Regions from separate parts of the Homo sapiens genome. Here regions 1 and 3 are each linked to region 2. The links come from fine-mapping of genetic effects on gene expression. A gene starts in region 2. Each other region holds a variant in brackets. All regions are shown on one strand. Distances are from middle to middle. Region 1 overlaps SP4 (Sp4 transcription factor). Region 2 holds the start of SP4 (Sp4 transcription factor). Region 3 overlaps SP4 (Sp4 transcription factor).

The links. PIP is the estimated chance that this variant, and not a neighbour inherited with it, causes the effect.
Region 1: its variant is the best candidate, but not a certain one, in a credible set for the expression of SP4 in lung (TOPMed, PIP 0.58).
Region 3: its variant is the best candidate, but not a certain one, in a credible set for the expression of SP4 in regulatory T cells (Schmiedel 2018, PIP 0.54).

The regions. Positions count from the first base shown.
Region 1 is chr7:21,484,809-21,489,050 of GRCh38, forward strand. The region is part of intron 5 of SP4 (Sp4 transcription factor); the gene reads left to right. Among named protein-coding and RNA genes, the nearest start is that of MIR1183, 16 kb to the left of the region's middle. The variant G/T (reference allele first, on the strand shown) is at 2,169.
Region 2 is chr7:21,426,426-21,430,667 of GRCh38, forward strand. SP4 (Sp4 transcription factor) reads left to right here and starts at 1,658. Exons shown (of 6, transcript NM_003112.5): 1 at 1,658-1,833; 2 at 2,252-2,367; 3 at 2,864-4,242. The coding sequence starts at 1,827. RefSeq lists silencers at 592-981, 1,362-1,951.
Region 3 is chr7:21,459,598-21,463,839 of GRCh38, forward strand. All of the region lies in intron 3 of SP4 (Sp4 transcription factor), which reads left to right. Among named protein-coding and RNA genes, the nearest start is that of MIR1183, 9.3 kb to the right of the region's middle. The variant G/GT (reference allele first, on the strand shown) is at 2,430.

The DNA.
Region 1 (4,242 bases), 58 kb after region 2:
CTCTCTCTTACACATCCACACACTTGCAGATACACAAAACAAATTTATTTAAGAATTTATATATACATATACTTCAAAACCAAATATTATGATTTGGGGCATATCTTTAAAAAAAAGATTCACACCATTATTATCTACTGGATTGACAATTCATAATCCAATATACTTTAAGCTTACTTTCAGTGGTTCAAACATCTTAAATATATCACACATAAAATTGTTTAATTAAAACAGGTTGACACTAAAAAATATTAATATCAGTATACTTAAAATTGTTACTTTTAAAGATTTAACAGAGTAACTCCTGTTTGTTAAATTTGTCTAAAAGAATATGAAAAAATATATTTTGAAATAAGTATTGATTAAGCATTTAATATGTTAAGTTGAAAGCCTTAACCATTCGTAGCAACAACTATGCTTTATTTGATGTCTAACCACTACTACAAATAGAAACTTATTGACTTGGCTATGAATGAATGGAGTTATTTGTATTCACTGCTGAAAATAGTGATCTGTTTGCTTTTTAAAAAAATTTGTAAAGGTTTTCAAAACAATATATGCATATGGTATTTAAAAATGAAATCACAGAAAAGTTTACTGTAATAAGGAGGCTCTTTGCCCCACCCCATCCTGCTTTCCAGAGAATATCATAGCTAACTATTTTAACTATTTTTGCATTTTTGTTCTTTCTAGGATGACTGTCATGTATCTAAATCATATACTTAAACACTGTTATTTATTGATCTATCAATATTTTATACTATCTATTGAGTTCTTGCATTTAGAATTAAGGATTTACTTCACTTTGCACCATCTGAAGACATTAAGATTCTTTTGAAAAACTGTATGCAGGCCAGGCATTCTCTCTTAACTCACCACTCTATTTCCAATAAAGTTAGACAATGCCTTTTCTTTTTTCTTGTATTGTTTGACTTTACCTGAAATAATCTTTAGTTATTTCAAGTTTTTAAGAACAATGTGAATTCCAGTCACATTTTCCTTTTTTCTGGAGCCTTCCATCTTTCTAATGAACATGAACAGTTTCTTCTGTAGACCTGTTCCAGGGGTATTATCTTGAGATTTCTTCCCTTCTCTGTTCGTTTTAGATCTCATATTGGTTCTCAAGATCTCGTGTTTTCATTTTTCTTGGTCTACTCTCTTCGTTGCTGGAAAACGTGCTGAAATGCTTCCTAACGAAAAGCTTGGGGAAATAAATTTGTCTAAAGGATTCTTTATTTTCTCTTTCTGCTTAATTTGGTTGTTTGGCTAATACAGTATTCTAGATTGAAAATTACATTCTCTTAAAACATTGTCACAGCTCTATTTTCTTTCATCTGTTTTATCAACAAGAGGTTTGTTATTTTTTCTTGTTTTTTTTTTCTGTAGGTGACCTGATTTCTTCCCTGCAGCTTTATTTTTATTTTGAAATAATTTTATACTTAGAGAAGAGTTGCAAAGCTAGCATAGAGTTCGCATATCATTCACCAAGCTTCCCTTATTGTAAACTTCTTGTATAACCACAGTACCTTATGAGAATTAAGAAATTAACATTGTTGCAATACTATTAATTACACTTTCCACCAATATACCTTTTCTTTTCCAGGATTCAGTCTGGAATAACACACTGCATTTGTTTGTCATGTTTCCTTAGTCTCCTGCAATCTGTGACTTTTCCTAGTCCTTTCCTTGTCTTTTATCACCTGGACACATTTGAAAGTGGTTTTGGTATTTTTAGAATGTCTGTCACATTGGGTTTGTCTAATGTTTTCTAATGATTAGAGTAAGATTGTGAATTGTCATGAGAAGAATAGCACATTAGTGTCTTTCTCTTATCATATAAGAGGAAGTATGTAATGTGATTATCTCATTATTGGTGATGTTAACCCTGATGTATTGGTTAATGTAGGGTGTGCCACATTTCTTCACTGTAAAGTTACAGTTTCTCTCTTTCCATATTGTTTGTTAGAAGCAAGTCACTAAGTTCAGTCGACATTCAGGGGGAAGAGAACTAAGCTTCACCTCCTGAAGGGAGAAGTATCGAAGAATTTGTGGACATATGTTAAAACCACCACAATAATTACTATTTTAGAGGAGTTTGGGGGGCTTTTTTACAAATAAAATACTAAAGCTTCACTTTTAGCATTCCTCAGTGGATCTTGCCTGCAGCA[G/T]TTATTACTGTGATGTTTGAAAGGTCATTTTCAATTTTCCTTGTTCTTTGTACCACTTATACTTTCTTCTCCAATTATTTATGCAATCATTTATTTACATTGGTATGGTCTCATGAGTAGTTCTTTTGTTCTTTGGGTTATAATTCAATACTATCATTTTCTTGCTCAAATTGTTTCACCTTTGGCCATTGGAAGGTCTTTCACATTAGTTCCTGTGTCTTCTTGAAGTGCCCCTGTTTTGTTTTTAACGCTAAGGGCGCCTTTTAATCTGTGGTGTGCTGCTAATTTCATAATGCTGTATCTGAGAATAGATTTTTATTTGTTGTGCTAATGACTTGTACTCTGGGTCACCTCTCTCCCTCTCTCTCTCTTTCTCTGTCTCTCTCTCTCTGTCTCTCTGGGCTCTTAGTAGACATATTTTGGAATCTCTAGGGTTTTTTTTTTTTTTTTGGTCTTACAGTTTTTCTCTTATATCTTTTGTCTCATTACCATTTTATTTTCCATGAAATTTTTTAAGTTTACTTTCAGATATTTCTATTGAATTGCATTTTAATTTCCAATAGTGTATTCCATCATTGTTGGTGGGTTTTGTTTTGTTTTACTGCATTTTGTTCTCATTGTATGGATGCAGGTGCTTGCTGAAATTATCTCAGTTTTTTAATCTAGAATTTTATGTTTCCTCCAGGATGATTTTTTTGTCTGTATCTTTTTCCAGTGTTGTAGGCGTTCCTGAATTGTCCAGTGATTCTTTGTTTTTGTTCAAGTTGATGATGATGATGATGATGATGGTGGTGGTGGTGGTGGTGGTGGTGGTGGTGGTGGTCATGGTGGTGATTTGATGAAATCTTAAGTGAAAGATTTTGAAAACTTTATGAGCTAGTGGCGTTTTGTTTTGGTTTTTTTGAGACAGGGTCTCTGTCTGTCACCAGGCTGGAGTTCACTGGCACGATCACAGCTCACTGCAACCTCCTCCACCTCCCAGGCTCAAGTGATCCTCACACCTCAGCCTCCCGAGTAGCTGGGACCACAGGTGCATGCCACCACACCTGGCTAATTTTTCTATTTTTTGCAGAGACAGATTTTTCTCAGTGTTGCCCAGGCTGGTGTTGAACTCCTGAGCTCAAGCAATCCATCCTCCTCAGCCTCCTGGAGTGTTGGGATTATAGGTGTGAGCCACTGCCTCTGCCAAGCTAGTGGCTTTTATTTTAGGTAACTGGGTGGAACACTGTGTTACACTGGAAGATGCCTAATTACCAAAATACAATAATATGCTGTGCAACCATGTTTTTTTAAGATACAAATCTTTAATATTAACATTTTGCCCCAATTTTTTGATAGTAGTTATAGTCTATGTATGGACTTTAATTTTGTTTTATGTTCCATGTCTCCCTCCCAGCAGAAGACATTGACTGTCTTCTAGAACATATTCTCTTCCTTGACAATTTATTTTCTAGTTTGCAGACATTTGATATAATCATTGTTTTGCTGATGGACTTCCTTTCCTTTTTTTTTTTTTTTGTTATTGTAGATTTAACCCTTTTATGCCTTTACTATTATTTTAATGGGTGTCTCAGTGGGGAGAATAAACAAACACATGTAATCATGCTGCTCTCTTAAACTTTAAAGGGTTACATTTAGCCAGGTGCAGTAGTGCACACCTATAGTCCCAGCTACTCAGGAGGCTGAGGCGGGAGAACTGCTTGTGCTAGGAGTTCGAGGCTATAGTGCCTATGATCCCGTGAATAGCCACTGCACTCCAGCCTGGGCAATATAACAAGACCCCGTCTCTTAAAAAAAAAATACTGATAACTTGGAAATACTATAATGATACAACTAAATGGATAATGTCTATAATAACGATGTCATATAGATATGCACACTTTTATGTTACATGTGTTAATATAGTGTACTTTGTGAATATTTTATTGTAGATACTTTGCCTACTTACTGGACTGTTTTATTTGCCATTCATAATCCACTTAGAAGTAAGGCAATCTAGGGATGATTTTTAGCAACTAGTGTTATAGGGATCTTTAACCAGATCTCAAATTCTTTTTCACCAGCTAAGAAAAAA
Region 2 (4,242 bases):
GTCAAGTTCAGCATCTGGGACCTCCTCACCATTGCAACATGTCAGGCCTCAGGCAGGAGACAAAAATGCCCAAGGCTGAGTGTGAAGCCCAGGTAAGAAGTGAGACAATGGCTTTGAGCCTGGGGTGTAAGCATGCCTTGTTCCCAAGGCCAGTATTTACATGTGGGGTCACTTCCACCTTTGGTACAGTTAATCAGGCGCTGATTACGTTCCATGGCATCATCCTGACTTCAGGACTTTGTAGGAAAGCTGAGGCAGGACACTGCTCAAGTGCATTTGACAGTAAGATGCTTTGTGCAGCCAGATGTTAATTCCACTTGCCCTTACGCTTGCTTACGCTACACCGTAAGCGGGGCTGACCCTTATGGAGCTGGGCTTTTCTTCGCCCGGAGACTCTTGTCAGATAAGGCTTAGAACTCCGCCAACCACTTAGGCTTTTAGGCAAAACGCGATGCAACCCTTCTTAGAAGGCGGGTCACTGCTCTGCACCAGCTGCCAGCCAGAGAGACAACAAATAAAAATGGAAGATCCTTCTCCGTGAGAAAACAGGCCTCGGACTCAAAGCAGGGGGCCTGAGGGGAAGGTGAGCAAAGAAAGGCAAGGCGAGGGCGCTGCTTCAAGAAGCCGGGTTCATTCAAACCCCGAGGACAGCAAACCCCGCCTCCCCACGCCGCCGCCCGCTCAATCGCCGAGCGCTCCGGGTGTGAGCTCGCCCCGCGGGGAGCGGCTTGGAGCCGAGGAGGCGGCGGCAGAGGTGGTTTGGGCAGCCCCGCGCGGCGGATAGGCCCAGGCAAACAACACCCATTCCCCCTCCTCCTCGCTCAGTTCAACTCCCACTCGGCCCCGGCCACGCCCTGCCGCCACCGCCCCCTCGGGCAGCTTTCCGCTCGGCAGCCAGGCCTCGGTCGGGGGCGGGAGAGAGGCGGTGCCTCGAAGAAGGCACCGCGACCGCCGGAAACTACGAGTACCGACAGCCTTCGCGGTAGTGCCCCACCCCCTTTCTCCCACCACTCAGCGCGCGTCACCCTGGGCTCAGCCAATGGAGACAGAGCCAGGGAAAAAGGGCGCCCGGGTCCGGATGCGCCTCAGGAAAGCCATGCTCCCTGCGCGGGGGCAGCGGGCAGTTCACCCAGCGCGCCGACCTGTTGGTGGTCCGCGCGCGCCCACGTCCGCCGCTCTCGCTTGCCTGGATCAAGGGCCCTACTTTTTTCTTTAGTGGCAATTGGAGGGATTGCTGGAGGGGGTTTTTGAGTGGAGGGCGCTGGGAAATGAGTAGGGGGCGGGATATCCTGAGACAACAAGTTTGGCTGTATGGAGGGCCTACCGGCAGCGCTCCTGAGCTAGAACGCCGAGAGAAAGAGCGCCAGAGGAGCCAGGGAGGAGGAGAAGAGCTGCTAAAGGAATAACCCCGAGAAAGGGGGTGGAGAGGAGGCGGCCCCAGCGCCCCGGCCCCCGGCAGGTCGGCGGCCAATCCGCTGGGGGAAGGGGTGGAGAGTCGGAGGCTCCGGCGGAGAGAGGCCGAGGGGGGTGGGGAGTCGGCCAGGCTCGCACCGCCCTGGCCCCGCCCCCGACCCGCGCCGCCGCCCGCGCCGCGCGCCGCCGCTGTCAATCAAGGGCGAGTCAGCCGGGCTCGGGCGGAGAGAGGAGCTGCTACGCCACAGCCCAGCGGCGGCCATTCGCGGAAAAAGAGGCAGAGCCTGTGCCAGCTACAGCCTCCTCCGAGCCACCGCGGGCGGGCGGGACCGGCCTCTCCTCCCGCCTCGCCCCCACCCCCACCCACCTCTATCCCAGTGTCTCCGTCTGAGGGTTTGTCCTGTTAATGCGGGATGAGCGGTACGTATTCTCCACCCCCCTCAGTCTCCTTCGCCGCCTCCCTCTCTCCCTCCCTCCCCAGACCCTGCTCGGTTCTCCCCCCTCCCCCGGGGCCGCTGAGATGCTTTAAGGGGAGGAGGAGAGGGCGGGAGGGAATCGGGGAGGGAAGGAGGGTTGTGTTTTGTCTTAATGTCTGAGAGAGAACAACCTCCTTCTGGGTGTTGCTCTGGAGCCGATGGGTCGGGTTTCAAACCACGTTTTGTGATATCCCCCTCCTCCCTTCCCTCCTTCTCCCCCACCCCCTGCCGGTGTGCGTGGATCGCGGGTTTATGGAGATTAATGTTCGGGGGGAGGGGGGAGAAGAGGAGAGGAAGAAGACGAATAATAATAATCCTAATAACCTGTTGTCGTGTGTGTGTGGTGGGGGGGTTTGTTGCAGATCAGAAGAAGGAGGAGGAGGAGGAGGCGGCAGCGGCAGCGGCGATGGCTACAGAAGGAGGGAAAACCTCTGAGCCAGAGAATAACAATAAAAAACCCAAAACCTCAGGCTCCCAGGTAAAAGCAAACAAATTAAAAAAATTCATCACGACACATTAGGAGAGAGAGGGAGTTATGCCCTTTGAATGTCCAGAAGTAACAGAATAAAATGTTTATCCACTCAAAGCATCTTTCTGAGAGTGTGGAACTTAAATTGTAAATTCATCAAGTTTTCACCTCTTTGAGGGTATAACGCTGTTTAAAATTACATCAGGAATTCAGACTATAAGAAAACGGTGTGTGTGTTCCCAAGGGCATTTTGAGTTTAGGAACATAACACTTTACAAAGTTGTAAAGAAATTTCCTTTTATTTAAACTTGATATTATAGGACTTGCTTCCTTATTCATATAGTTCTTATCTACTTTTGTTCGTATTTCTTTTTGATTTCTGCTGCTTCCTAAATTGTTATGTAGAGCTGTCAAAATAAGTAACCCCCTGGCAACTACTGGCCTCCACTAAATCCGCCCACTTTTTTTCCCCCCCCCCTCTCCTTTACCGTCCCATTTTGGGTAGGACTCTCAGCCCTCTCCTCTGGCTTTACTGGCAGCTACTTGCAGCAAAATAGGGACTCCTGGTGAAAATCAAGCAACTGGACAACAACAAATTATTATAGATCCAAGTCAAGGATTGGTGCAACTTCAAAATCAACCACAACAGCTAGAACTGGTAACAACGCAACTTGCTGGAAACGCTTGGCAACTTGTTGCCTCCACTCCTCCTGCTTCAAAAGAGAATAACGTTTCTCAACCAGCCTCTAGTTCGTCTAGTTCTTCCAGCAGTAATAACGGGAGTGCATCTCCTACAAAAACTAAATCAGGTAATTCTTCCACCCCTGGTCAATTTCAAGTCATACAAGTACAAAATCCAAGTGGTAGTGTACAGTACCAAGTAATTCCACAACTTCAGACAGTGGAAGGTCAACAAATTCAAATCAATCCAACTAGTAGTTCATCTCTACAGGATTTGCAGGGTCAAATTCAGCTCATTTCTGCAGGTAATAATCAAGCTATACTCACAGCTGCTAACAGGACAGCTTCTGGGAATATTCTTGCTCAAAACCTGGCAAATCAGACAGTTCCGGTCCAAATTAGACCTGGTGTTTCAATACCACTGCAGTTACAGACTCTTCCTGGTACTCAGGCTCAAGTTGTAACAACCCTACCAATTAACATTGGAGGAGTGACTCTAGCTTTGCCAGTGATAAACAACGTGGCTGCCGGAGGAGGGACTGGGCAGGTTGGCCAGCCTGCTGCTACTGCTGATAGTGGGACTTCCAATGGGAATCAATTAGTTTCCACACCCACCAACACCACTACTTCTGCCAGTACTATGCCAGAATCTCCCTCCTCCTCCACTACCTGCACAACCACTGCTTCAACGTCTTTGACAAGCAGTGACACATTAGTGAGCTCAGCAGATACTGGCCAGTATGCAAGCACATCAGCCAGTAGTTCTGAACGCACCATTGAAGAATCTCAAACACCTGCTGCTACTGAGTCTGAAGCCCAGAGCTCCAGTCAGCTTCAGCCTAATGGAATGCAGAATGCACAGGATCAATCAAATTCTCTTCAGCAGGTGCAAATTGTAGGCCAACCTATCTTACAGCAGATCCAGATCCAACAGCCTCAGCAACAGATCATTCAGGCTATTCCACCACAGTCGTTTCAACTCCAGTCAGGGCAGACGATTCAGACCATCCAGCAGCAGCCTTTACAGAATGTTCAACTTCAAGCAGTAAATCCGACTCAGGTGCTTATCAGGGCTCCAACTTTAACACCTTCAGGGCAAATCAGTTGGCAAACTGTACAGGTTCAGAATATTCAGAGTCTTTCAAATTTGCAAGTTCAGAATGCTGGGTTATCCCAACAATTAACCATCACCCCAGTGTCTTC
Region 3 (4,242 bases), 33 kb after region 2:
AATCGTTTGATGATCACTGTAATAAGATTATACTGTTTTTAGATGGTTAGTACACTAATACCTGATTCTGTGATTGCCTTTGCTCATATTTTCTGCTCTCATGGAAGATTGCTTTTTACCGTTATTTCCTGTTTTATCCATTTAATTGTTAGTGGTCCTGTTTACTAACTTTGTCCTCTTACCACTTCTCAACTGCATATCCATTTCTTTGGGACTTATTCCTTAAATTCCTACTAAGTCTAAGCACAAGGCTAAGTTCTGAGAGCATAAAGGTAGAAGCCTTTGCCTTCCAAAAGGTTATGTTCCAGTTGAGGAGACAGAATATTCATTAAAATAAAAGGTAATGCATAGAAGTAATACAAGTGGCATATGCTAAAAGAGAGATGAATGGTAAAAGATGGTAATACTAAAATTAAGAGCAGGATGAATCTTCTGAGAGCCAGGGCAGAAATAAAAGACTCCATGAAACCTGGTAGGCTTGAACTAATTCTTTGAGAAAAGGAGAGCCCTAACAGGAATAAAGAAGGAAGGCATTGTACAAAAGATAGTGTGTCCGGAATTGGTGGGTTCTTGGTCTCAATGACTTCCAAGAATGAAGCCACGGACCCTTGCGGTGAGTGTTAACAGTTCTTAAAGGCGGCATGTCCAGAGTTTGTTCCTTCTGATGTGGGGATGTGTTCGAAGTTTCTTCCTTTTGGTGGGTTTATGGTCTTACTGGCTCAGGATTGAAGCTGCAGACCTTCGCGATGAGTGTTACAGCTCTTAAGGCAGTGAGTCTGGAGTCGTTTTTTCCTCCCGGTGGGTTCGTGGTCTCGCTGGCTTCAGGAGTGAAGCTGCAGACCTTCGCGGTGAGTGTTACAGCTCATAAAGGCAGTGTGGACCCAAAGAGTGAGCAGCAGCAAGATTTATTGCGAAGAGCAAAAGAACAAAGCTTCCACAGTATGGAAGGGGACCCGAGCGGGTTGCCACTGCTGGCTCGGGCAGCCTGCTTTTATTTTCTTATCTGGCCCCACCCACATCCTGCTGATTGGCCCATTTTACAGAGAGCCGATTGGTCTGTTTTACAGAGCGCTGATTGGTCCATTTTGACACGGTGCTGATTGGTGCGTTTACAATCCCTGAGCTAGACACAAAAGTTCTCCACGTCACCACTAGATTAGCTACATACAGAGTGTAGATTGGTGTATTTACAAACCCTGAGCTAGACACAGAATGCTGATTGGTGCATTTACAAACCTTGAGCTAGACACAGAGTGCTGATTGCTGCATTTACAAACCTTCAGCTAGACACAGAGTGCCGATTGGTGCATTCACAATCCCTTAGCTAGACATAAAGATTCTCCAAGTCCCCACCAAGATTAGCTAGACACAGCTGATTGGTGCATTTCCAAACCTTGAGCTAGACACAGAGTGCTGATTGGTGTGTTTACAAACCTTGAGCTAGATACAGAGTGCTGATTGGTGTATTTACAATCCCCTAGCTAGACGTAAAGGTTGTCTAAGTCCCCACCAGACTCAGGAGCCCTGCTGGCTTCACCCAGTGGATTTCGCACCAGGGCTGCAGGTGGAGCTGCCTGCCAGTCCCGTGCCATGCGCCCGCACTCCTCAGCCCTTGGGCAGTCGATGGGACCGGGTGCCATGGAGCAGGGGGCGGTGCTTGTTGGGGAGACTCAGGCCGTGCAGGAGCCCACGGGGGTTGGGGGAGACTCAGGCTGTGCAGGAGCCCACGGCTGGGTGGGGGTAGACTCAGGCATGGTGGACTGCAGATCCTGAGCCCTGCCTCGCGGGGAGGCAGCTAAGGCCTGGCGAGAAATCGAGCGCAGCGCCAGTGGGCCAGTACTGCTGGGGGACCCGGCGCATCCTCCGCAGCTGCTGACCCAGGTGTTAAGCCCCTCACTGCCGGGGGCCAGCAGGGCCGGCCGGCAGGCCAGCCGCTCCAAGTGCAGGGCCCGCCAAGCCCACACCCACCCGGAACTCTAGCTGGCCTGCAAACACCGCGCGCAGCCCCGGTTGCCACCCGTGCCTCTCCCTCCACACCTCCCCGCAAGCCGAGGGAGCCAGCTGCAGCCTCGGCCAGCCCGGAGAAGGGCTCCCACGATGCAGCGGTGGGCTGAAGGGCTCCTCAAGCGCAGCCAGAATGGGCGCCGAGGCCGAGGAGGCACCGAGAGTGAGCCAGGGCTGCCAGCACGCTGTCACCTCTCAATAGGAAGTTGGAATATGCTTTGTATAAGAAAGAATGGATAGACCTTTAAAGTTCTAGTGGAGACTTTGAGGAGAATGTTAGAAAATGAAGTTCACAAGGTTGGTAGAAGTTTGGTTGTAGAATGACGATGTCAGACCAAGGACAGGTGAAAAGGGTATGTGAATGTGTATATTTTTGAGGGGTAGGGGACAGGAAGTTTCATTTATAAAGCAGTGTTTTAGTTTTA[G/GT]TTTTTTTTTTTTTTTTTTGAAGACAGGATCTCACTCTGTTACCCAGGCAGTGCAGTGGTGTGATCTTGGCTTGCTGCAACCTCCACCTCCCAGGCTGAAGCAATCCGCCCACCTCAGCCTCCCAAGTAGCTGGGACTACAGGTGTGCTGCCACCAGGCCCAGCTAATTTTTGTATTTTGTAGAGATGGGGTTTTGCCATGTTGCCCAAGCTAGTTTTGTTTTTTAACAGACGTAGGAGAAATGGGGAAGCCAGTTTCGGGACCATAGTATTGACTCAGATATCAGTGATGGGAAGTCTGAACTTGAGTGTAAAGTATGTGGTTCTCAAGAGTCTTAAAAAAATAAAAATAAAAAAGAATTTGATGTATGAATGGAGAGAGGAAAAATATTTTAAGGGTAATTCTGTAGAGTTTGAATCTGGATGACCATGAAAGTGCTTGTGCCATTGAAAGAAATGACTTCCAGAAAATGAAAGTGATGAACCTGAATTTTGATATTTGTTAATAAGTCTGAGCTAATAGTATGTTGAAAGTGTCTAGTTTGTATCTGGAGATTGGTCCTGAGAAGAGATCAGAATCAGCAGTCTAGATATGAAAGTCTTTTGCATGGAGATGGTGTAGAAATTATGGCAGTGTATGAAATTGAGGCAGACAGTTTTGAGTTTGAATTGCAGAATTATGAGAACTGAACTTAGGGTTACACCTGGTCTTTGGGGGCCAAAAGCAGAAAGTTAAGAAAAGTGAGAACCATCAGAGAAATAGAAAGAGAACAGGGTAGTATGTCAGCAGCTAAGAGGAATCTCAGATGGTATTGAATGTTGACTTGAGAGTATTGAGAAAAGTTCAGCAGGTTTTGTGTTTGAATCATTTGATAAGACCTAAGAACTGTGCTGTTCAATATGAAAGCCGTTGGTCACATGTGGCTTATAAACCTAAAATTAATTAAAATTAAAAACTTATTTCCTCAGTTGCATTAACTACATTTAAAGTGCTAATTACCACATGTGGCAAGAGGCTATCATATTGGACAGCACTGATAAATAACTTTTCTTTTTTTTTTTTTTTGAGACAGGGTCTGTCACCCAAGTGAAAGTGCTTCTAAAATGAGATTTTAAAAAGGTGAGTCAATGTTTGGAGAACCAGTCAGATGCTGATAATAGAAGGGAGAATAAAGATACTTTTGGGTGACTTCTCAGTAAATTAGGAGGCAAAATCATCTACAGATTGTAAGGTGCAAGGAAAGGGGAATGAGGATTTGAGGACAGAGGGAAAAAAATTGGAACAGCCAATGAAGGGCTATGTACATTGCCAGCATAGGATGAATGAAAGGTTACCAAGCAACAGTGATGGCTCAGGTAATGTAAAGTTTAGGGCTTTATTAGCCCTCCTGTAATCTCTTTCCTTGGTGTTTAGCAGCCTAAGAACACCAGAAAGTGGATGATAAGAATTACCATCAGGTGTGGCAGAAGTTCAGCGAGACACAAGGGATTACCACGGATGCTAAGCGAAGCCAGAGGAGGGTTGGATTGAGAGTGTGTCCACATAACTAGGGAACAAAGTGAGGATGAAGATTGAGTTCAAAAATAAACGGAGTGAAAGGGACAGGAAGTTAAATATCGTGGTTGGAGAAGAGATAGTGCCAAGCCTGACTTCTTGGAGGAAGAGCAGTTCTAGTTGAAGACAGAGTTTGAGCTGGGTTGTGTCTGTAGGAGACATCTGAATGTAGAACTGATTTTTTTTCCAAACCTGCTTCCTCTCCGGGGTTCCCCTATTTCTGTTAATGGGATCATCATCACTCAAATTAGAATACTTA